2 separate regions of the Homo sapiens genome follow, and region 2 is linked to region 1. The links come from fine-mapping of genetic effects on gene expression. A gene starts in region 1. The other region holds a variant in brackets. All regions are shown on one strand. Distances are between the middles of the regions. Region 1 holds the start of ALOX5 (arachidonate 5-lipoxygenase). Region 2 overlaps ALOX5 (arachidonate 5-lipoxygenase).

What was found.
Region 2: its variant is fine-mapped to the expression of ALOX5 in esophagus mucosa (GTEx, PIP 0.94).

What each region holds. Positions count from the first base shown.
Region 1 is chr10:45,362,130-45,377,613 of GRCh38, forward strand. It overlaps ALOX5 (arachidonate 5-lipoxygenase), which reads left to right and starts at 12,087. Exons shown (of 14, transcript NM_000698.5): 1 at 12,087-12,300. The coding sequence starts at 12,151. RefSeq lists enhancers at 11,855-12,465, 12,466-13,074.
Region 2 is chr10:45,415,239-45,423,238 of GRCh38, forward strand. All of the region lies in intron 4 of ALOX5 (arachidonate 5-lipoxygenase), which reads left to right. Among named protein-coding and RNA genes, the nearest start is that of ALOX5, 45 kb to the left of the region's middle. RefSeq lists enhancers at 3,701-4,394, 4,395-5,086, 5,115-5,616. The variant G/C (reference allele first, on the strand shown) is at 4,566.

The DNA of each region.
Region 1 (15,484 bases):
TACATAAATAAACTAGAAAATCTAGAAGAAGGGGGAGGAGCCAAGATGGCCAAATAGGAACAGCTCCAGTCTACAGCTCCCAGCGTGAGTGACACAGAAGACGGGTGATTTCTGCATTTCCATCTGAGGTACCGGGTTCATCTCACTAGGGAGTGCCAGACAGTGGGCACAGGTCAGTGGGTGCGCGCACTGTGTGCGAGCCAATGCAGGGTGAGGCGTTGCCTCACTCGGGATGTGCAAGGGGTCAGAGAGTTCCCTTTCCTAGTCAAAGAAAGGGGTGACAGATGGCACCTGGAAATTCGGGTCACTCCCACCTGAATACTGCACTTTTCCAACGGGCTTAAAAAACGGCGCACCTGGAGAGTATATCCCGCACCTGGCTTGGAGGGTCCTATGCCCACGGAGTCTTGCTGATTGCTAGCACAGCAGTCTGAGATCAAACTGCAAGGCAGCGGCGAGGCTGGGGGAGGGGCGCCTGCCATTGCCCAGGCTTGCTTAGGTAAACAAAGCAGCTGGGAACCTCAAACTGGGTGGATCCCACCACAGCTCAAGGAGGCCTGCCTGCCTCTGTAGGCTCCACCTCTGGGGGCAGGGCACAGGCAAACAAAAAGACAGCAGTAACCACTGCAGACTTAAATGTCCCTGTCTGACAGCTTTGAAGAGAGCAGTGGTTCTCCCAGCACGCAGCTGGAGATCTGAGAACGGGCAGACTGCCTCCTCAAGTGGGTCCCTGACCCCTGACCCCCGAGCAGCCTAACTGGGAGGCATCCCCGAGCAGAGGCAGACTGACACCTCACACAGCCGGGTACTCCAACAGACCTGCAGCTGAGGGTCCTGTCTGTTAGAAGGAAAACTAACAAACAGAAGGACATCCACACCAAAAACCCATCTGTACATCACCATCATCAAAGACCAAAAGTAGATAAAACCACAAAGATGGGGAAAAAACAGAGCAGAAAAACTAGAAACTCTAAAAGGCAAAGCGCCTCTCCTCCTCCAAAGGAATGCAGTTCCTCACCAGGAATGGAACAAAGCTGGACGGAGAATGACTTTGACGAGCTGAGAGAAGAAGGCTTCAGATGATCAAATTACTCCGAACTACGGGAGGACATTCAAACCAAAGGCAAAGAAGTTGAAAACGTTCAAAAAATTTAGAAGAATGTATAACTAGAATAACCAATACAGAGAAGTGCTTAAAGGAGCTGATGGAGCTGAAAACCAAGGCTCGAGAACTACGTGAAGACTCAGGAGCCGATGCGATCAACTGGAAGAAAGGGTATCAGCGATGGAAGATGAAATGAATGAAATGAAGTGAGAAGGAAAGTTTAGAGAAAAAAGAATAAAAAGAAATGAACAAAGCCTCCAAGAAATATGGGACTATGTGAAAAGACCAAATCTACATCTGATTGGCGTACCTGAAAGTGACGGGGAGAATGGAACCAAGTTGGAAAACACTCTGCAGGATATTATCCAGGAGAACTTCCCCAATCTAGCAAGGCAGGCCAACATTCAGATTCAGGAAATACAGAGAACGCCACAAAGATACTCCTCGAGAAGAGCAACACCAAGACACATAATTGTCAGATTCACCAAAGTTGAAATGAAGGGAACAATGTTAAGGGCAGCCAGAGAGAAAGGTCGGGTTACCCTCAAAGGGAAGCCCATCAGACTAACAGCGGATCTCTCGGCAGAAACTCTACAAGCCAGAAGAGAGTGGTGGCCAATATTCAACATTCTTAAGGAAAAGAATTTTCAAACCAGAATTTCATATACAGCCAAACTAAGCTTCATAAGTGAAGGAGAAATAAAATCCTTTACAGACAAGCAAATGCTGAGAAATTTTGTCACCACCAGGCCTGCCCTAAAAGAGCTCCTGAAGGAAGTGCTAAACATGGAAAGGAACAACCGGTACCAGCCGCTGCAAAATCATGCCAAAATGTAAAGACCATCGAGGCTAGGAAGAAACTGCATCAACTAACGAGCAAAACAACCTGCTAACATCATAATGACAGGATCAAATTCACACATAACAATATTAACTTTACATGTAAATGGACTAAATGCTGCAATTAAAAGACACAGACTGGCAAATTGCATAAAGATTCAAGACCCATCAGTGTGCTGTATTCAGGAAACCCATCTCACGGGCAGAGACACACATAGGCTCAAAATAAAGGGATGGAGGAAGACCTACCAAGCAAATGGAAAACAAAAAAAAGGCAGGGGTTGCAATCCTAGTCTCTGATAAAACAGACTTTAAACCAACACAGATCAAAAGAGACAAAGAAGGCCATTACTTAATGGTAAAGGGATCAATTCAACAAGAAGAGCTAACAATCCTAAATATATATGCACCCAATACAGGAGCACCCAGATTCATAAAGCAAGTCCTGAGTGACCTACAAAGAGACTTAGACTACCACACATTAATAATGGGAAACTTTAACACCCCACTGTCAACATTAGACAGATCAACAAGACAGAAAGTCAACAAGGATACCCAGGAATTGAACTCAGCTCTGCACCAAGCAGACCTAATAGACATCTACAGAACTCTCCACCCCAAATCAACAGAATATACATTTTTTTCAGCACCACACCATACCTATTTCAAAATTGACCACATACTTGGAAGTAAAGCTCTCCTCAGCAAATGTAAAAGAACAGAAATTATAACAAACTGTCTCTCTAACCACAGTGCAATCAAACTACAACTCAGGATGAAGAAACTCACTCAAAACTGCTCAACTACATGGAAACTGAACAACCTGCTCCTGAATGACTACTGGGTACACAACGAAATGAAGGCAGAAATAAAGATGTTCTTTGAAACCAATGAGAACAAAGACACAACATACCAGAAATTCTGGGATGCATTCAAAGCAGTGTGTAGAGGGAAATTTGTAGCACTAAATGCCCACAAGAGAAAGCAGGAAAGATCCAAAATTGACACCCTAACATCACAATTAAAAGAACTAGAAAAGCAAGAGCAAACACATTCAAAAGCTAGCAGAAGGCAAGAAATAACTAAAATCAGAGCAGAACTGAAGGAAACAGAGACAAAAAAAACCCTTCAAAAATTAATGAATCCAGGAGCTGGTTTTTTGAAAGGATCAACAAAATTGATAGACCGCTAGCAAGAATAATAAAGAAAAAAAGAGAGAAGAATCAAATAGATGCAATAAAAAATGATAAAGGGGATATCACCACCGATCCCACAGAAATAAAAACTATCATCAGAGAATACTACAAACACCTCTATGCAAATAAACTAGAAAATCTAGAAGAAATGGATAAATTCCTCGACACATACACTCTCCCAAGACTAAACCAGGAAGAAGTTGAATCTCTGAATAGACCAATAACAGGAGCTGAAATTGTGGCAATAATCAATAGCTTACCAACCAAAAAGAGTCCAGGACCAGATGGATTCACAGCCGAATTTTACCAGAGGTACAAGGAGGAACTGGTACCATTCCTTCTGAAACTATTCCAATCAATAGAAAAAGAGGGAATCCTCCCTAACTCATTTTATGAGGCCAGCATCATCCTGATACCAAAGCCGGGCAGAGACAAAACCAAAAAAGAGGATTTTAGACCAATATCCTTGAGGAACATTGATGCCAAAATCCTCAATAAAATACTGGCAAACCAAATCCAGCAGCACATCAAAAAGCTTATCCACCATGATCAAGTAGGCTTCATCCCTAGGATGCAAGGCTTGTTCAACATATGCAAATCAATAAATGTAATCCAGCATATAAACAGAACCAAAGACAAAAACCACATGATTATCTCAATAGATGCAGAAAAGGCCTTTGACAAAATTCAACAACACTTCATGTTAAAAACTCTCAATAAATTAGGTATTGCTGGGACGTATCTCAAAATAATAAGAGCTATCTATGTCAAACCCACAGCCAATATCATACTGAATGGGCAAAAACTGGAAGCATTCCCTTTGAAAATTGGCACAAGACAGGGATGCCCTCTCTCACCACTCCTATTCAACATAGTGCTGGAAGATCTGTCCAGGGCAATCAGGCAGGAGAAGGAAATAAAGGGTATTCAATTAGGAAAAGAGGAAGTCAAATTGTCCCTGTTTGCAGATGACATGATTTTATATCTAGAAAACCCCATTGTCTCAGCCCAAAACCTCCTTAAGCTGATAAGCAACTTCAGCAAAGTCTCAGGATACAAAATCAATGTACAAAAATCACAAGCATTCTTATACACCAACAACAGACAAACAGAGAGCCAAATCATGAGTGAACTCCCATTCACAATTGCTTCAAAGAGAATAAAATACCTAGGAATCCACCTTACAAGGGATGTGAAGCACCTCTTCAAGGAGAACTACAAACCACTGCTCAACGAAATAAAAGAGGATACAAACAAATGGAAGAACATTCCATGCTCATGGGTAGGAAGAATCAATATTGTGAAAATGGCCATACTGCCCAAGGTAATTTACAGATTCAATGCCATCCCCATCAAGCTACCAATTACTTTCTTCACATAATTGGAAAAAACTACTTTAAAGTTCATATGGAACCAAAAAAGAGCCCGCATCACCAAGTCAATCCTGAGCCAAAAGAACAAGGCTGGAGGCATCACACTACCTGACTTCAAGCTATACTACAAGGCTACAGTAACCAAAACAGCTTGGTACTGTTACCAAAACAGAGATATAGATCAATGGAACAGAACAGAGCCCTCAGAAATAATGCTGCATATCGACAACTGTCTGATCTTTGACAAACCTGAGAAAAACAAGAAATGGGGAAAGGATTCCCTATTTAATAAATGGTGCTGGGAAAACTGGCTAGCCATATGTAGAAAGATGAAACTGGATCCCTTCCTTACACCTTATACAAAAATTAATTCAAGATGGATTAAAGACTTAAATGTCAGACCTAAAACCATAAAAACCCTAGAAGAAAACCTAGGCATTACCATTCAGGACATAGGCATGGGCAAGGACTTCATGTCTAAAACACCAAAAGCAATGGCAACAAAAGCCAAAATTGACAAATGGGATCTAATTAAACTAAAGAGCTTCTGCACAGCAAAAGAAACTACCATCAGAGTGAATAGGCAACCTACAGAATGGGAGAAAATTTTTGCAATCTACTCATCTGACAAAGGGCTAATATTCAGAATCTACAAAGAACTTAAACAAATGTTCAAGAAAAAAACAACCCCATCAAAAAGTGGGCAAAATACATGAAAAGACACTTCTCAAAAGAAGACATTTATGCAGCCAACAGACACATGAAAAAATGCTCATCATCACTGGCCATCAGAGAAATGCAAATCAAAACCACAATGAGATACCATCTCACACCAGTTAGAATGACGATCATTAAAGTCAGGAAACAACAGATGCTGGAGAGGACATGGAGAAATAGGAATGCTTTTACACTGTTGGTGGGGGTGTAAATTAGTTCAATCATTGTTGAAGACAGTGTGGCAATTCCTCAAGGATCTAGAACTAGAAATACCATTTGACCCAGCAATCCCATTACTGGGTATATACCGAAAAGATTACAAATGGTGCAACTATAAAGACACATGCACACGAATGTTTATTGTGGCACTATTCACAATAGCAAAGACTTCTAACAAACCCAGATGTCCATCAATGATAGACTGGATTAAGAAAATGTGGCACATATACACCATGGAATACTATGCAGCCATAAAAAAGGATGAGTTCATGTCCTTTTCAGGGACATGGATGAAGCTGGAAACCATCATTCTCAGCAAACTATGACAAGGACAGAAAACCAAACACCGCATGTTCTCACTCATAGATGGGAACTGAACAATGAGAACACTTGGACACAGGGCAGGGAACATCACACACCAGGGCCTGTTGGGGGGTGGTGGACTGGGGGAGAGATAGCATTAGGAGAAATACCTAATGTAAATGATGAGTTGATGGATGCAGCAAACCAACAGGGCACATCTATACCTATGTAAGAAACCTGCACTTTGTGCACAGGTACCCTAGAACTTGAAGTATAATAAAAATGAAAAAAAGAAAATGTTACTAGCAAATTGTAGATGGGTATACCTAATATAACTCTGCATGTGCACTATGTGTCTGGATACACATGGAAAGTATTCAGGCATACACACCAAATTGTTAAAATAAATCCCCTTCCAACATTAGGAGTGGCTGGGGAGCAGATGGCTTTCACTTCCGCACATTCCATGGTGCCAGGGTAATACCACATCACAATAGTAAATAGCAAAAATAACAACCTTAAGTTTAGATTTTCTTATCTAAATTTTAATTCTGTGAAGAAGTTTCCATTTCCCTTTTTCACACAGGATAGTAGAATGCAGTTTAGAAAGAGTGAGATCACTTGTTAGACTGTACAATTTTTAAGCATCAGCGAAGTATACCATTAAACTTCTCTATCAATCCATTCTCTAAACTTCCCAACCCAAAAAAAAAGAAACACATAAAATTGAAATGAAGAAAACAATACAAAAGATCAACAAAAATGAAAGGTTGGCTTTTTAAAGAGATAAACAAAATTGACAAATGTTTAGCCAGACTAAGAAAAAGAGAAGGCCCAAATAAATAAAATCAGAGATGAAAAAGCAGACATTATAACTGATACTGCGGAAATTCAAAGGATCATTAATGGCTACTATGAGCAACTGTATGCCAAACATTGGAAAATATTGAAGAAATAGATAAATTCGTAGACACACGCAACCTAACAAGATTCAACCATGAAGAAATTCAAAATCTGAACAGACCAAAAACAAGTAACAAGATCAAAGCCATAATTAAAATTTTCCCAGCAAAGAAAAGCCTGAGACCCAATGGCTTCACTGCTGAATTCTATCAAACATTTAAAGAACTAATACCAATCCTACTCAAACTATTCCAAAAAGTAGAAGAGGAGGGAATATTTCCAAACTTATTCTATGAGGCCATTACTGCTCCTATATCAAAACCAAGGACACATCAAAAAAAGAAAACTATAGGCCAATATCTCACATGAATATTGATGAATCCTCAAAAAATGCTAGCAAACTGAATTCAACATCACATTAAAAATCATTCATTATGACCAAATGGGATTTATCCCAGGGATGCAAATATGGTTCAACATATACACATCAGTCAGTGTAACATATCATATCAACAGAATGAAGAAGAAAAACCATATGGTCATGTTAATTGATGCTGAAAAAGTATTTGAGAGAATTAAACATCTCTTCATGACAAAAACCCTCAAAAACACTGGAGACAGAAGGAACATACCTCAACACAATAAACAGACATATATGACAGACTCACAGCTAGAATCATACTAAATGGGGAGAAACTGAAAGTCATTCCTCTAAGATCTGGAACAAGACAAGGATGCTCATTTTCACCAGTGTTAGTGGAACATAGTACTGAAAGTCCTAGCTAGAACAGACTAGAGACAGAAATAAGGGGCATCCAAACTGGGAAGAGAGAAGTCAAATTACCTTTGTTCGCAGATGGTATGATCTTCTGTTTGGAAAAACCTAGACTCCATAAAAAAATGATTAGAACTGATAAATTCAGTAAAGTTTCAGGATACAAAATTAACATACAAAAATCAGTAGCATTTCTATATGTCAATAGCAAACAATCTGAAAATGAAATCAAGGAAGTAATCCCATTTCCCATTTGCAATAGCTATAAATAAAATTAATATAATCTCATCTCTTCAATAAGTGGTGTTGGGAAAACTGCATATCCACATACAAAAGAATAAAATTAGACCCTTTTAATATACAAAACTGGACCCAAGTTAATATACAAAAATTAACTTGAAATGAATTAAAGACTTAAATGTAAGATCTGAAACCAAAAACTCCTAGAGAGAAACATAGGGGAAAAGCTCCTTGACGTTGGCCTTGGCAATAATTTTTTGGGATATTACACCAAAAGCACAGACTTTTGAAAAAATAAACAAGTAGGACTACATCAAACTAAAAAGCTTCTGCATGGCAAAAGAAAGTCAACAACATGAAAAGGCAACCTACAGAATGGAGGGAAATATTTGCAAACCATATACCTGATGAGAAGTTAATATCAAAATATAGAAAATATATAAGGAACTCACATATCTCAATACCAAAAAAATAATAACCTGTTTTATAATGGGCAAAGGACCTGAATAGACATTTTTTCAAAGAAGACACACAGATGGCCAACGAGTGCAGGAAAAAGCGTTCAACATCACTAATCATCAGGGAAATGCAAATCAAAACCACAATGAGATATCACTCCACACCTGTTAGGAAAGCTATTATGAAAAACACAAGAGACAATGAATATTGGCAAGGGCATGGAGAAAAAAGAACCCTTGTACACTGTTGGTAGAAATGTAAATTGCAACAGCCTTTATGGAAAATAGAATGGAGGTTCCTCAAAAAATAAAAATAGAACTACCATACAATCTAGCAATTCCACTTATGAGTGTACATCCAAAGGAATCAAATCACTATGTCAAAGAGATATCTGTACTTCCTTGTTTATTGCAGCTTTACTCACAGTAGCCAAGATAAGGAAAAAATCTAAATGTCCATCAACGGATAAAGAAAATGGGGGGAGGGGTGTGCATGTATACATACACAATGGACTATTTTTCAGCCATAACAAAGAAGGAAACCCTGCCATTTGTGACGATATGAATGAACCCAGAGGACATTATGTTAAGTGAAATAAGCCAGACACAGAAATACAAATATTGTATGATCTCATTTATATGCGAATCTAAAAATTTCAAACTTGAAGACGAATAAGTAGAACAGTATTTATCAGGAGCTAGGGGATGTGGGGAAGAAGCAAAATATTGGGCAAAGAGTATAAACTTTCAGTTATGAGATGAAGGCCAGGTGCGATGGCTCATGTTGGTAATCCCAATACTTTGGAAGGCTGAGGCAGAGGGATTGCTTGAGACCAGCCTAGGCAAGAAAGTGAGACCTCATCTCTACAAAAAATAAAAATAAAAGAATCAGCTGGGAGTGGTGGCATACACCTGTAGTCCCAGCTAGTCAGGAGGCTGAGGGGGGAGGATCATTTGAAATTGGAAAGTCAAGGCTGCAGTCAGCCAAGATAGTGCCACTGCATTGCAGCCTGGGTGACAGAGCGAAACCCTGTCTCAAAAAAAAAAAAAAAAAAAAGATGAATAAGTTCTGGGGATCAAATGTACAGCATGGTGACTATAGTTTATAACTGCGTTATTACTTGAAATTGGATAAGAGCAGATTTTAAGCATCCCCAGCACCCCCCCAACATACACACACACAAATGGTAACTATAGGTGGTGATAGATATGTTAATTTGACTGTGACAATCAGCATTCAATATATACATATATCAAATCATCACATTTTACCCCTTGAAATAGAAACTTTGATTTGTCAATCAAATATTTTAAAACGAAAATAATCATAATATTAATATAGCATACAGGAAAAAATTTCGTATCTCGACTGATACAGAAAATTTCATGATAAAAACACTTTAAAACAAAAGAAATAAAAGGGAACTCCCTCAACCTGATAAATGGCATCTGTGGAAACCCCCAGCTAGCATCAAACTTAATACAGAAAGGCTGGGTGTTCACCTCTTGAACCAGGAACAAGACAAAGATGCCTGCTTTTGCCACTTCCATTTGACCTTGTACTGAGGTTCTGGCTAGGGCAATTATCCCTGAAAAAGAAATAAAAGGCTTCCAAATAAAAGAAGAAGTAAAACTATCTCTACTCGCTCATGACATGATCTTGCATATAGAAAATGTGCACATGTACACACACACAAACCATTAGAACTAATAAACAAGTTCAGCAAGTTTGCAGAATATAAAATGAATGTACAAAAATCAAGTGTTTTTCTATATACTAGCAATTAACAATCTCAAAATGAATTAAAATTCCATTTACAATAGTATCAAACATAAATTATTTAGAAATAAAAAGTGCACTGAAAACTACAAAATATTTTGAAATAAATCAGAAAAGATTTAAGTAAATGGATCACTTGAACCTGGGAAGCAGAGGTTGCAGTGTGCCGAGATTGTACCACTGCACTTTAGCCTGGGCAACAGAGGGAGACTCCAAAGAGTCGAAAAGAAAAGAAAAGATTTAAATAAGCTGAAACATATTCTATGGATCAGAAGACTTAATATTGTTAAAGTGACAATATTCCCCAAATTGATCTACAGCTTCAACTCAACCCCTATCAAAATCCTAGCTTGCTTTTTGGCTGAAATTGACAAGCTGATTCTATAATTTATATGGAATCTCAAAGGATCCAGAATAACCAAAACAATATTGAAAAATAAAGAACAGCGTTGGTGGATTAACATTTTCCAATTTCAAAACTTACTATAGCACTGCGGTAATCAAGCAGTGTGGCACTGTATAGCATGTACATTACAGATCAGTGGACTAGAATCAATGTCCAGAAATAAACCGTTATGTTTATAATGAATTACTTTTTAATAAGGTGTCAAGACAACGCAATGGGAAAAGAATAATGAATTCAACAAATGATGCATGGACAACCGGACATGCACATGCAACACAATGAATTTGAATTCTTCTATCGCTCCATGCATAAAAACTAACTCAAAATGGGTCACGGATGTAAATGAAAAGCTAAAACTATAATAATCCTAGAGGAAAACCTAGGAGTAAATCTTTAAGATGTTATTGTAGGCAGTGGTTTCTCAGATAGGACCCCAAAATCACAAGCGACAAAAGAAATTGGACTTAAAGTTAAATACTTTTGTGCTTCAAACATCATCAAGAAAGTGAAAACACAACCCGCAGAAGCAATAAAAATGTCTGTAAGTCATGTATCCGATTAGAGACTTCTATCCAGGATATATAAATAATGCAATTCAATGATAAAAAAGATAAATAGCCCAGTTTTCCAAAGAGTCAAGCATCTGAATATACATCTCTCCAAAAATATACAGATATCCAACAAGCATGTGAAAAGATGTTCAAAGCCATTTGCCAGGTGCACAAACCCAAGACAGTATGAGGAGATGCTACAGGGACTCTGCTGCTTCACAGACATGAAGCGTTGGTGAGAATGTAGGCAGCCGCCTTTGGGGACTTCACATCCCCGCCGCCCCACGCACGGTGAGCTAGTGTTTAAACTTAGCCGAGATCAATACACGCGACTGTGTGCCCGTCAGACCCTGCGCTGCCGGCGGGGCTGGGAGAGGCGGGCGCCAGGAGTGGGCGGGAACCTGGGGGTCAGGCCCCAGCCGCGGGAAGCCGCCCAGGAGCGCGCGAAACCTTCTCCACACCCTTCCAGGCATTTGCCCGCCGCGATTCAGAGAGCCGACCCGTGACCCCTGGCCTCCCCTAGACAGCCCCGCATGTCCAGATGTGCCGTCCCGCCTGCCTCCCGCGACCACTGGCCATCTCTGGGCCTGGGCGCGGTCTCGGCGCCCGCCTGCCCCCGCCAGGAGCCGCAGGTCCAGCCAGTGAAGAAGCCCGCGCTGAAGGAGCCTCTGTGCTCCAGAATCCATCCTCAGTATCAGCGCTGGGGTGGCCTCCTCCAGGAAGCCCTTCTGATTCTCTCATGGGTCGCTCTTCCTCTGCAGACTCCCGGAGCACCCCTGCTCCAAGTACCGCAAGTGGCACTGAGAACTTGGGGAGAGCAGAGGCTGTGCCTAGATTTGTAGGGAGTCCCCGCAGCTCCACCCCAGGGCCTACAGGAGCCTGGCCTTGGGCGAAGCCGAGGCAGGCAGGCAGGGCAAAGGGTGGAAGCAATTCAGGAGAGAACGAGTGAACGAATGGATGAGGGGTGGCAGCCGAGGTTGCCCCAGTCCCCTGGCTGCAGGAACAGACACCTCGCTGAGGAGAGACCCAGGAGCGAGGCCCCTGCCCCGCCCGAGGCGAGGTCCCGCCCAGTCGGCGCCGCGTGAAGAGTGGGAGAGAAGTACTGCGGGGGCGGGGGCGGGGGCGGGGGCGGGGGCGGGGGCAGCCGGGAGCCTGGAGCCAGACCGGGGCGGGGCCGGGACCGGGGCCAGGGACCAGTGGTGGGAGGAGGCTGCGGCGCTAGATGCGGACACCTGGACCGCCGCGCCGAGGCTCCCGGCGCTCGCTGCTCCCGCGGCCCGCGCCATGCCCTCCTACACGGTCACCGTGGCCACTGGCAGCCAGTGGTTCGCCGGCACTGACGACTACATCTACCTCAGCCTCGTGGGCTCGGCGGGCTGCAGCGAGAAGCACCTGCTGGACAAGCCCTTCTACAACGACTTCGAGCGTGGCGCGGTGAGCGCGGGCGGGGCACGGGTGGAGCGCGGGCTGAGGTGCGTCCGGGACCCGGTTTGGACGGCAGAGGCCTGGGCGGGGGCGCCGAGGGCCCGTCGGGGCGGCCCGGACAGGACTGGGGGTGTCCAGGACCCTGTCAGGGAGGGCAGAACTGCGGTGGGGCGTGCCCTGGGCTCCCAGTGGCCGGTGGGTACCCTGGTGGGCAAGCGTCCAGGACCCCTCGCGGCGGCCGCGACCCCTGTCGGAAACGGAGACTTCCCGCGTGCCGCCTGCAAGGCGTCTTCCCTGGGAGGAGAAGGCCCAAGGTTTCCCCTCCACTTCAAGATCTGGGCTCCGAGGCTCCGGAGCCCCCTTCACTGGGCCGCGTTTCTTGTGCCACCTCTTCCTTAGGCTCCTTCTGCAGGTCGCACAGGGAGGGAGAGGCAGATGAGTCATGCTCACAGAACTCTGAGGGCACCTCGGAGCAGCCAGCTGTGAGCCGTGGGGAAGGGTGCACGTCAGCGGGTCCAGAGGCCTGAGTTCTGTCCAGACATGACCACCAGCTCACTCTACCGTCTGTCTGGGCCTCAGTTTCCCCAGCTGAAAATGGAGGGTTGGCTTCAGTCTGGTCCATGAGTCATGGGTGAGCCCAGGCCCATCTGGTGGCTCAGACGGCACCTGGGCAGCTTACATTCTCAGGACAGTCCCCAGAGGAAATTAAAGGGAAGGAACAGAACCCAGGCCAGGAGAGGCTTTTCCTAAATGGAGGGGCTGCACTCCCTCCCAGCAGAATGTACACCAGGGAACACTTCCACGCTAGGTGTGAGGACGCGAGGGAGCCCTCAGCATTTGGAAGCTAGTTCCTAATGCTGATCTGGACCTGAATTCCAGCCCCACGACTCTTTTCCATGAGCATGGGCAGGTCGCAGTTCTCACTGAGCCTTTAATGAAGTGCCTAATCCAGTACCTGGCACAGAGGAAGCGCTCCGTAAATGACTGGTAATAGTCCCAGACATACTGCAGGTGCGCAGGGAATATCAGTTCCCTTCCACCCCACCCCAGCTCCTAACTGGACCAAAAAGATTTAGACTTTACCAAGCTGCCTTCTCACCATTTAGTTTATTATTTGATCAAACCTTGTGAAATTGCTCATAATGGACAAATACAACCGGCAAGTTCATGTTTCAACTGATTACTCTTGGATAAAATTTGTGTTTTAGGTGTGCAGAGCCTAAAGTAAGTAAAAACTACTCTTTTTCTGGATTCCAAGCTCTCCATGGGCTCGATTCCTATCCAGGAGCCCATACCCTCGCTGTAGCACGACATGGCCCTCAGCCAAGTTCACTAGCATCCTGGCTTGAGCTCCCTTCAAGAAGAGTTAGGTGTTGAGTACAAGAGCAACCTTCAGTTGCTTAGTTGCCCCAGTCGGGGAACTGACCCTGAGGACTGCGGTGCCCTGGAGTTAATGTGTCGTCCATTTAGGGTGATGGCACCCTCTGCCATTTCTGACGCACCTTCATTTACTTCCATTATTTCATGGATTCCCCACACCTGGGGGAGAAGGACAGGGTACAGGCTACTTCCCCTTTGTAAGTGCTTCCTCCTCCCCATTCTCCTCCACACATCATAAGGTTCTAGAAGCACAGGCCATTGGTGTGCTCACACTGCACAGCACGGGCACCCCGTGTGTGCTTTCCTCCTGCAGGGGACATGATAACGTGGCCATAGCGGGCTCTTCGGACAAAGAGTGAAGGCACTGTTTTGTCCACTATCTCCCTCTCTCGGTCTGTCTTCCCCTACCCTGAGAAGTCATTCAAATGACATTATAATTAAACACCTCAGCCGGAATCCCAGGGGCAAATTTCAGGAGAGATTTGCATGTCACATTTCCATTGGGTTGAGAGGGCTATAAGTCAGGGGTGGGGCGGGGGGTGGTTGGGGGTGGGGGCTACCGCAGGGTGGGGAACCAGCTAAGGCTGAAAGTTTCCTTGAAAAAATCAGCTTTTGAGAAAGTTCCTGTTGATGCAAAGTTACTCAACACTTTCTCTTGCCCAGCCCAGAACTACTTCCTCATTCTCCCAGCTTGGTATCTGTAAAGACAATCATCCTTTTTGGGTAAAGGTAAAAGAGAAACCCTAGAGGAAGTACTTGCTGAGAAGACAAGGTTATCCCATTTTACAGGGAAAAGTGTTAAAATCTGTATTGTTAACAGTAGTAACGATAACAATAACAATAAAGGTATTTCCACACAATTTAATCATTTCCAAGTTATTGGCAGGTCAACACCCCCCTCCTCCAGGGCATAGTTCAGTCAAATAATGGACAGGACTGATTTTTTCCTTGATAAAGTGAGTCACAGGTCCCTTGTTATTCTCATCAGAGTTCCGCATAGTGATTCAGTCAGGACTGGGAATCAAGTCCTTCGCAGGTGGGATTATCCTATAAACGGTTGTGTCTTCCTTGGCTCCTCACTGTCTGCTGGAGAAAGCCGGGATCCTACACAGAATGGCCCTGTTTCCAGAGGCTAACCCAAGTCTAGGCAAATTTAACAAGTTGATTTATTTCTTTAACTCTGTAAATTTAAAGTAATTCAGATCGGATACGATAACTGTAACAGATCTGAAGATTTCTGAGAAATCTTAGTTGGCCCATTTCATTCTGTGCTGGTACTTTTAAGAAAGCTAAGGGCAATAGCGTGGTGTTTAATATATGATACTTGAATATGTTCAACAAGTGTAGAAAAGTGTTATAATGATTCATGCTTCTTAAGTCAGTGAGTATTCTTACATTCATGAAAAATTAATTCTAGAATACCTCCTTCTTGTGAATGGGAATATATTAGTGGAGCATAAATATTTCTTTGGTATGACCCTCAATCCGTCTCTCATCTCCCAGTCTCCCCCTCTGAGCCATCTTTTCCCTACATTCTGCCCCCTCTTCTGCCTCCTCTTCCTTCCCCTGCTCCCAGTTCCCTAAATGCCCCCCGTTTCTGCTCTCTACCCTACAACTCTCCCTTCTTTTTTGCTCTGAATTTTCCTCTACACTCTGTCTTCCAGCCACCTCTCAGAGGCCCCTTCTCTGCTCCCTCAATCTCCGGCTCTCTGTCCCACATTTTCCCCCTTCTCTGCCCCTTGGTCTCCCTATCCACTACCCCAATCCCTCTCTCCGTCCCTTGTTTTCCTCAGCTCTTCCCCATAGCCTCCCC
Region 2 (8,000 bases), 49 kb after region 1:
GGAATACTATGCAGCCATAAAAAAGGATGAGTTAATGTCCTTTGCAGGGACATGGATGAAGCTGGAAACCATTATTCTCAGCAAACTATCGCAAGGACAAAAAACCAAACACCGCATGTTCTCACTCATAGGTGGGAATTGAACAATGAGAACACTTGGACACAGGAAGGGGAACATCACACACCAGGGCCTGTCATGGGGTGGGGAGAGGGGGGAGGGATAGCATTAGGAGATATACCTAATTAGGAGTTAATGGGTGCAGCACACCAACATGGCACATGTATACATATGTAACAATCCTGCACGTTGTGCACATGTATCCTAGAATTTAAAGTATAATAATAAAAAAAAAGACATACACGGAAAAAAGGAACACAAATCCACAGGAACAGTTGGTGGACTGTGCCTTTTTCCGAAGATGTCTTTAAGGGCATCAATATTTAAAGGAGAACAGGCTGGAAGGAAGAAAGGGAGGGCATGGTCACGTTACTGAATCCACATGTTGCAAAAGAAAAGGAGCAGGTAGGGGAATAGTCAGTTATGTATTCCTCTTGCGCTTAGTACATCAGCACTTGATAAGGTGAACACCAAGAGCTACCTGTGGAGGTTTTCACCTTTTATCTGTAGCTATCTTCGTTTCTTGCATCACTCAGCTTTCAGCTTAATTTTTCCCTTTTGGCAGAGTGAATTGGGGTCCAAAGATTTTCATTTCCTTTTACACCTAGAATCCTCTGAGGAGCATTAGCACCTGCTAGTGCCAGGCCAACCCCACACCCACAGATGACAGTCTATGAGGGTGGGACCCTGGCTTTGAGTCTGCACACCCAGCAGGTAGACGAGGCTGAGAACCCAGCCAGACTTCAAAGCTTAAAATAATATTATTTATTTCTAAACATTGTGTCGGTGTTTTGGGGGGTACAATAATCTATTTTAAGCTTCATGGCCATCCTGGGAGGTAAATAATATTATTGACCATTTCTAGGTGAGGAAACTGAGTCTCCAAGGGGTCAAGGTCAAGGAGTTTGCCTAAAGTCATTTAGGCAGAAATTGGCAAAACCAGGATTTGAATCCAGGTCTGTTTGTGTCCAAAGCTGGGGCATTTTTCTCCTACCACAATTGGGGTCTACTGGAGAGAAAAATTAAAACCTAACATCTGGATTAGTAATGCAGCAGTATCCACCATCTCCCTGGAAACATCACGGCAGTTAGGGGCTCACTTCCCTTCCCCTACTCTGGGATTGGGATTGTTGATCAAAGCCATGTAGCTTTAGTGGGATAGGTCCCAGACCAGGATGGGACAGGCAGGACAGAAGGCCCTTGTGAAAGAGACAGTTTGGAGGGAATAATAAGGATGGTGAGGTAGTGAGGTGGAGAGTACTGCCACCCAGTTTGGAGGGAATGGAGGAATACTGGACAGATGGACAATCAAACCGATGGACAGGCAGATGGATGGGTTGAGGGATGGATGATGAATGGATGGATGAAGGGAAGGAGGAAGGATGGAAGAAGAGGTGGATGGGGGATGGATGGAGAGATAGATGAGAAATTGATATACGGATGGATGGATTCATGGATGGTGGATGGATGGATGGATGACAGATAGTGAGATGGATGGATGGATAGATGGGTGGATGGATTGATGGGTGGATGGTGAATGGATGGTGGATGGATGGAAGTATAGACAGAGAGATGGATGGATAGATGGATGGATGGATGGATGGAGGAATTAATGGTGGAGTGAAGGCCAGACTGTGCCTTTCTTATCTCTGTTCAGTGTTTCTGAAGGTCATTGTCATCTCTGTATCTCAGGAGCCTCTGTATCTTAGCAGCTGTCACAGAATAGGTGCTCATTAAATCCTATTAAAATGAAAGTGTGACCCACCTGGCCCCTGAGTGCCCCTGAGTGCCAGCTGGGTCACAGTCCATTTTAACAGGGTTTAATGAGCACCTATCCTGTGGTATAGAAGGTAACTGTGCACCTCCTTTTCATGTATCCCCATCATGGCTAACAACAGCCTAGACATATGGTTCTCAATCCTGTGTGTTTAGTGTTACAGACTCCATGCTGCCCACTCTGCACAAACTGTGGAACCAGGGGAAGTCCAGCACAGTTATATTTTAGGGCTACTGGTGGATTCCAGTGTATAGCCAGGATTAAGAACACTGGCCTGTAATGCCTTTCTGGGCCTCCCCACCCCCCACATATGGTTGCATCTATTTGCTGAGTCAAGTCCATCTGCTGGGTCCCAGGGAGTGCCTCCTCCTCTCCCAGCTCCACCATCTCTCCTGAGTGAGGGCAGGAGCATCTTTCCAGCTGCCTCCCTGGGCTCCATCTCTCAAGACAGTGGGAGGGCTTATTCTCAAGTGCTTGTATAATTTGTTGGAGGCTCGCTCTAAAAAGTAAATATAATTTCTTGGTTGGCTCAATTGCAGGTGAGAGCCCAGATGTCTCTGCCCAGAAATGGAGATACATCCATAGGGACGCACCCGCCCCTGCCATCTCTCAGGTCCTACATGCATAGGATGCTCCACCGTGGGGAGCCAGCAGGGCTTTGCAGAGCATCTCTTGTCTCTGACCTAGCTGTTTCCTTTGCCACACCCACCCTCCCCACTTCTTGGCCAAGACATGGGTGAGGGGCCCCTTCTTGCAGAAGCTTCTAGAAGCCTCTGGCCCCAGTGAGGTCCCCTCCCCTGTACTCCCCAGTGCCGCCCACCCTGCCCTTGGCCCCAGAAGTGCTGCAGCCCACGTTTCTCCACATCGTCCTGTCATTAGCCCCTTGAGTGATGGCCTATTGGCAGGAGCAGAGCGAAGGAATCCTGAGAGGGGCCCTTCTGCCCCTCCTGGCCCAGCAGGCTGGACAGTAAGCTTAGCCCCACTCTGAGCACCGCCTCTGTGCTGGCACAGTGGATGGAGACCCTTGAGTTCTGCGGGGGAGAGAAGAGGTGTCCCTGTATTTGAGGAGCTGAGCCAAGGGGGCTGGACCACAAGGAAGCAGCTTAGAGGAGCCTGTGTGGGGATGAGGGGTGCCTGGGAGAGGGCCCTGGGCCGGTGGGGGTTGGGGGGACCCTAGGAAAGTCGTCTAAGTTCCCTGAGCCTCGGTGTCCTCAAATGAACAATGAGACCCGGCCCCAGCTCCTCCCCAGGGTTGTGAGATTAAAATGGGATCGCACACATCAGCCCCTCAGGGAAGTTTCTCCCTAAAGACAGCCTTTGTCTTCTCCATTCTTGGTTCAGGCCCTCTGGGACCGCGTCTCCACCATCACACACCGGCCTAGGGCTGCACTCTTGGAAGGGCCCCTGCGCTTGCAGGGTGGGCAGGGGACCCTCGCTTCACCTGGGCGTCCTCTCTGATGGGGCCCAGGAAGGCTTTGCAGCCGGGGGCCATCTGACCAGGTCTTACTGGGCCCAGGCAGAGGTACGTGGGGCCTGGAGAATGGCACAGGGGGCTGCAGCGGAGAGAGACTGTGGGCACAGGTGTGGCGAGGCCAGGCCGCCGAGAGCCAAGTGGTTTGCGAAATTTCCTGGTGGTGTGGAGGGAGGAAAAGCTGATGTGTTCACCTCCCCACTCGCTGTTTGCAGCCTGGAAGACGATTGCAGGGGGTGGCAGGGCTGAAAAGACAATGTCCTCATTAAAGGAAATTGAGAAAGAGAGTTTCCTTCCCAGTGGGGCGGGACAGTGCAGAAATGCGGCCGGTCCTGGAAGAGGTGGGGGCGAGGGGTCGGGGGCTCACACGCCCTGCGATTTCCTCCCATGAGAATGGGCGGGGGCAGCTCCGGGAAGGGTGGCGGATGGAGCCGCCCTCTCCCCAGGACCACAGGGGCGCTTTCCAGTGAAGGCGCCGTAGGAAACGCCAGTCTGTGCCGCAGTGTACGTAGAGGCGCTATGAGCCCGAGTTTCCCACGTCCAGGGACAAACTGGGAGCCGTGACTGTCAGGCCGCGCGGAGGCTGCCCTGGCCGCCTTTGCGGTCAGGTGAAGGCGCAGAGGCAGGGAGGCCGGGCGAGCGCAGGCGGGCGGAGAGCAGACCACGCGGAAGAGGCCGAGAGAGAAAGCGGGGCACCCGGCCGGGGGGGTCATTTACAAGGGACGCTGGGCACGAAGGAGGCTGGGGCGAAGATGAGTCCAGGGGTTGGGTTGAGAGCGCTGCGCAGCCGGGCTGAGAAGAGAAGCTGACGAGTGACTCCCGACAAGGGACGGGGGAGAGGGAACCTGGGGGCAGGCAGAGGCCTAGGGGGTGGGCTCTGAGGGCAGCCACTCCCACCGGCCCTCCCCCAGCCCCGCAGGCCAGCCACATGCCCCGTGCTCCAGACGACCCAGCTACATGGATGGCAGCGTCCTGAAGGGGGATGATCGGTAGGGAGTGGGTGCGGAGGCTCACGCCTGTAATCCCAGTGTTCGGGGATTCCCGAGCGGGAGGATCGCTTGAGCCGGGGAGGTGGAAGCTGCAGTGATCTGCGCCACTGAACTCCCGCCTGGGCGGCAGAGTGAGACCCTGTTTCAAAAGGCACCAGGGGTGTAGGGAAGGAGCGATATCCCCCAGGCAAGGAAGGCTGCGGAGGGGCCA[G/C]GCCAGGAGAGAAGGGCCCTGAGCTCAGTGGACGGGCAGGGTGCCTGTGGAGGAAGGGAGGGACGTAGCAGCAGGAGGAAGGGTGAGGACCCAGGCTGGGGATCGGGAGAAGTGATGGCGGAGGAAAGAGAGGCCGGAAGAGGAGGGGGCCTGCTGGCCTGGCACTGGAAAGCAAAGCGTGGGTTTGTATATGGGAAGAAGACCACATCCCCTCTTATCGTCATCCCAACTCAGAAACCATTTGGCCCCAAGTCACCAAAGCACTCATAGGAACCACTTTTCCTGTGACACAAGTAGGATTCTCCCACTTTTAACTTCCCAAATGCTACCCGAAAGCCTCTGAAATCCTTGGAAATTTAAAAAATAATCCCCTTCTATTAACTGATGCCTATAAAACATATTGACTTTCATTAAATTTTGTTATGAAATCAGGGATGTGTCCCATTGTAAAATAAATTTGTTTGGAAAATGTAGGGTGGTATCCCATCTAAAAATCAGACGAGGCTAGAAAATTTCAATTTTATTTGCTAAGGTAGCATCATGTTGTTAAAAATGCATCATAAAATAAGACCAAGAGTTAATACAAAGCATGAAGTCATGTTTCCCTCAAAAAAATGATTTGTTCTGTAGTCAAATTAATTTGGAAAACATTGCAAACTCTTCAGCAGTGGTTCTCAAAGTATAGCTTGCGTCAGAATCCCCTGGGGCCCTTGCTAAAATCTGGATGGCTACACTCCCCGCCTAGAGTGGGTTAAACTCAGTGCCCACTGGCAGGAAACTGAAACTTGGCTGAAGTCACCGAGGAGGCCTTCCCCGTTAAACCTCTGGCTGGCGACAGCTTGGTTTCCTCGCCGCTGCTTCTGAGTAATTCTGGCACGCAGTTCCTCCTAGCCACCTGCTGTACCTGGAAGGGGGCCAGCCCTCCTCAGCAGGCTTTGCTCCTGCCCTGCACAGCACAACTGTGGCGTAAAAAATGGAAAAGCTGGTAGCAGAAGGAAAGAGCAGGGAGACAGAGGTTAGGTGAACCTCAATGGCCTCATTAAAGCAAATTGAGAAAGAGAGTTTCCTTCCCAGTGAGGCGGGACAGTGCAGAAATGCGGCCCGTCCTGGGAGAAGTAGGGGCGAGGGGTGGGGGGCTCACCGGGCACATGGCCAACAGCTGGTGCCCAGCCTGGGCCACAGTTTGGCACAGGAGAAAGCTGAAGATGCAGGAGAAAGCTAGGTCACTGCCCCTAGGCCAGGTGATCAAGGTGGCTGTTACCTGCCTGTGTGGCCTTGAAAAAGCCTGGTGCCCTCTCTGGCTTGCAGGGTCCTTCTTTTTACAAAAGCGGGTCTTCGAAGCCCTGAATATTCCAGTTATCTGTAAGGATATAGAAATATTTTGCCTCTAGATGACATGTAAATATGTTCCTCCTAACTCCACTTCTTCCTACATCTGTGGCTTCTTCTGAGAACTACCAGACCCACCCTGTTTTCAGAGTAAACCTCCTGTTTTGAGGTCAAACAGACCCAGCTGGGTAATTGGTGACTCACTCCTGGTTCCTCCAAAGAACAGGGGCAAGGGACCACCCGGGACCTCAGGTGCCCCAGCACAGGACCTCTTTCTGGGGCACCCTCTGGCACTGGGCCATCTTCAGGCCCTACAGGGCTCTCGGGGCCTGCGTAGGCCTCTCATCTCCCAGAAATAAGTTCTTTTCCCCACCCAGACTGACACCAGATGCTACAGTGAGGTTTACCCCTCCAGCTTGACAAGCATTCCTAGCCCAGAACACTCAGCTGACGAGGGGTGCTGGGGGAGGAAGGAGGCAGCAAGGCTGAAAGAAGCTTCTCTGGGTATTCCAGTGCCTGGCTGCTGGTCGTAGCCATGGTGAGACCACAGCAGCCTCCCTGGAAGCAAGCACCTGTGTAAAAGCCCCTCCTTCCCCACAAGGGGCTGGATCCAAGTGAAGAAGGTACCAGAAGGACTGGAAGATGATGCTGGTATTATTCGACAGCTCCAGGGTGCTGTAGCACTGAGCACCTACTGTATGCAGCCCATCACAAAGCCAGCCACACTGCCCAGGCTGTGCCATGGCAACTTCCAGCAGTACACCCTCTCGGTCACCTGCAGGCTCCTTGTTCATCCTGACACATGAGGAGAAAAAGACAGTACTCACAAAGGCCTCTAGCCTTGTGGCCCCAGGACCCTCTCCTGAGCATCATGGCCTCCTAGGAGACCCAGGGTAGCCAGGACAAAGGAGAGAAGCATTTGCTAAGCTAAGAAAGGATGGAAGGGGATTGCTGTTCTGCCTGGATGCACCCCTAGACCTGGCAGGGCAGGCAGGAGAGACCCCCAGTGTCTCTTGCTTATCCTAGGAGTTCCCCCCTGTGGTTGCTCCAGTTTGCTGCCTTCATGCATGTTCACAGGGTGATTCCCCTGAGACAACAGAGCTGGGATGTCACCAAGCCCTGTGTCCCATCAGCCAGGCTCTCCCCAGCCTCCATCCTCTCATTCTGCTGGATCAGGAGGATGTGGGGAGGTCCCTGACTCCCCAGCTTTCCCCATGACAAGGTGTGTGTCTACAGCTCAGACCCAGCCATGCTCCACCTGAGAAGTGGGTCCAGGCAGAGCACTGGGTCCTGGCCACCTAGGGCTGCCTCCTCAGGGGTGGGCAGGAAGGGGAGCCACTGGAGGAGTGCCCCGGGCACAGTCCCCTGCACCAGGTGAGGTCACCTCTTAGTCCATGAGGCGATGCTGCATGAGCCCCTCTGGACACTAGAAGGCCTGGGCTCAATGCTGAGTAAAGTGCAGGCATGACTGTGCCCTCAGCATGCATAGGGCAGCAGGCATAGATTCATACACGTGAGTTTGCACTTAAGCTGCAGTAAGAGCTACAGAGGAAATGAACAGAGACAGCATCACTCCAGTGAGCCCTCCAGATACACCCCATGTGCGCAGTAAGAGAATGGCATAGTCTATTGGGACAGCCACATCAAAATACCACAGACCAGATGGCTTAAACGGCAGATATTTGTCTCTCACAGGTCCGGAGGCTAGAAGTCCAAGATTAGGGTGCCAGCCAATCCACTTGCTGGTGAGGGCCCTCTTCCCAGCTTGCAGATGTCTCTGTGTTCCCACAGCATGGTCACGTGGCAGAGAGAGGGGGACAGGGCATGAATAAGCCCTCGGTGCCTTCCTCTTCTTACGAGGATGCTAATCCCATCACGGGTACCCCACCCTCGTGACCTCGTCTAACCCTAATCACCTCCCAAAGGCCCCATCTCCTAATGCCATCACACTGGGGGTCAGGGCTTCAACACATGAATTTGGGGAGCACAATTTAGTCCACAGCAGAAAAGAAAGGGGCACAGAGCATTCCAGCCTGAAGGAAACAGATGTGCAAAGGCCCAAGGCAAAGGCCTGAGCTCTGAGGGGCAACCAGAGTCAAGGCTGAA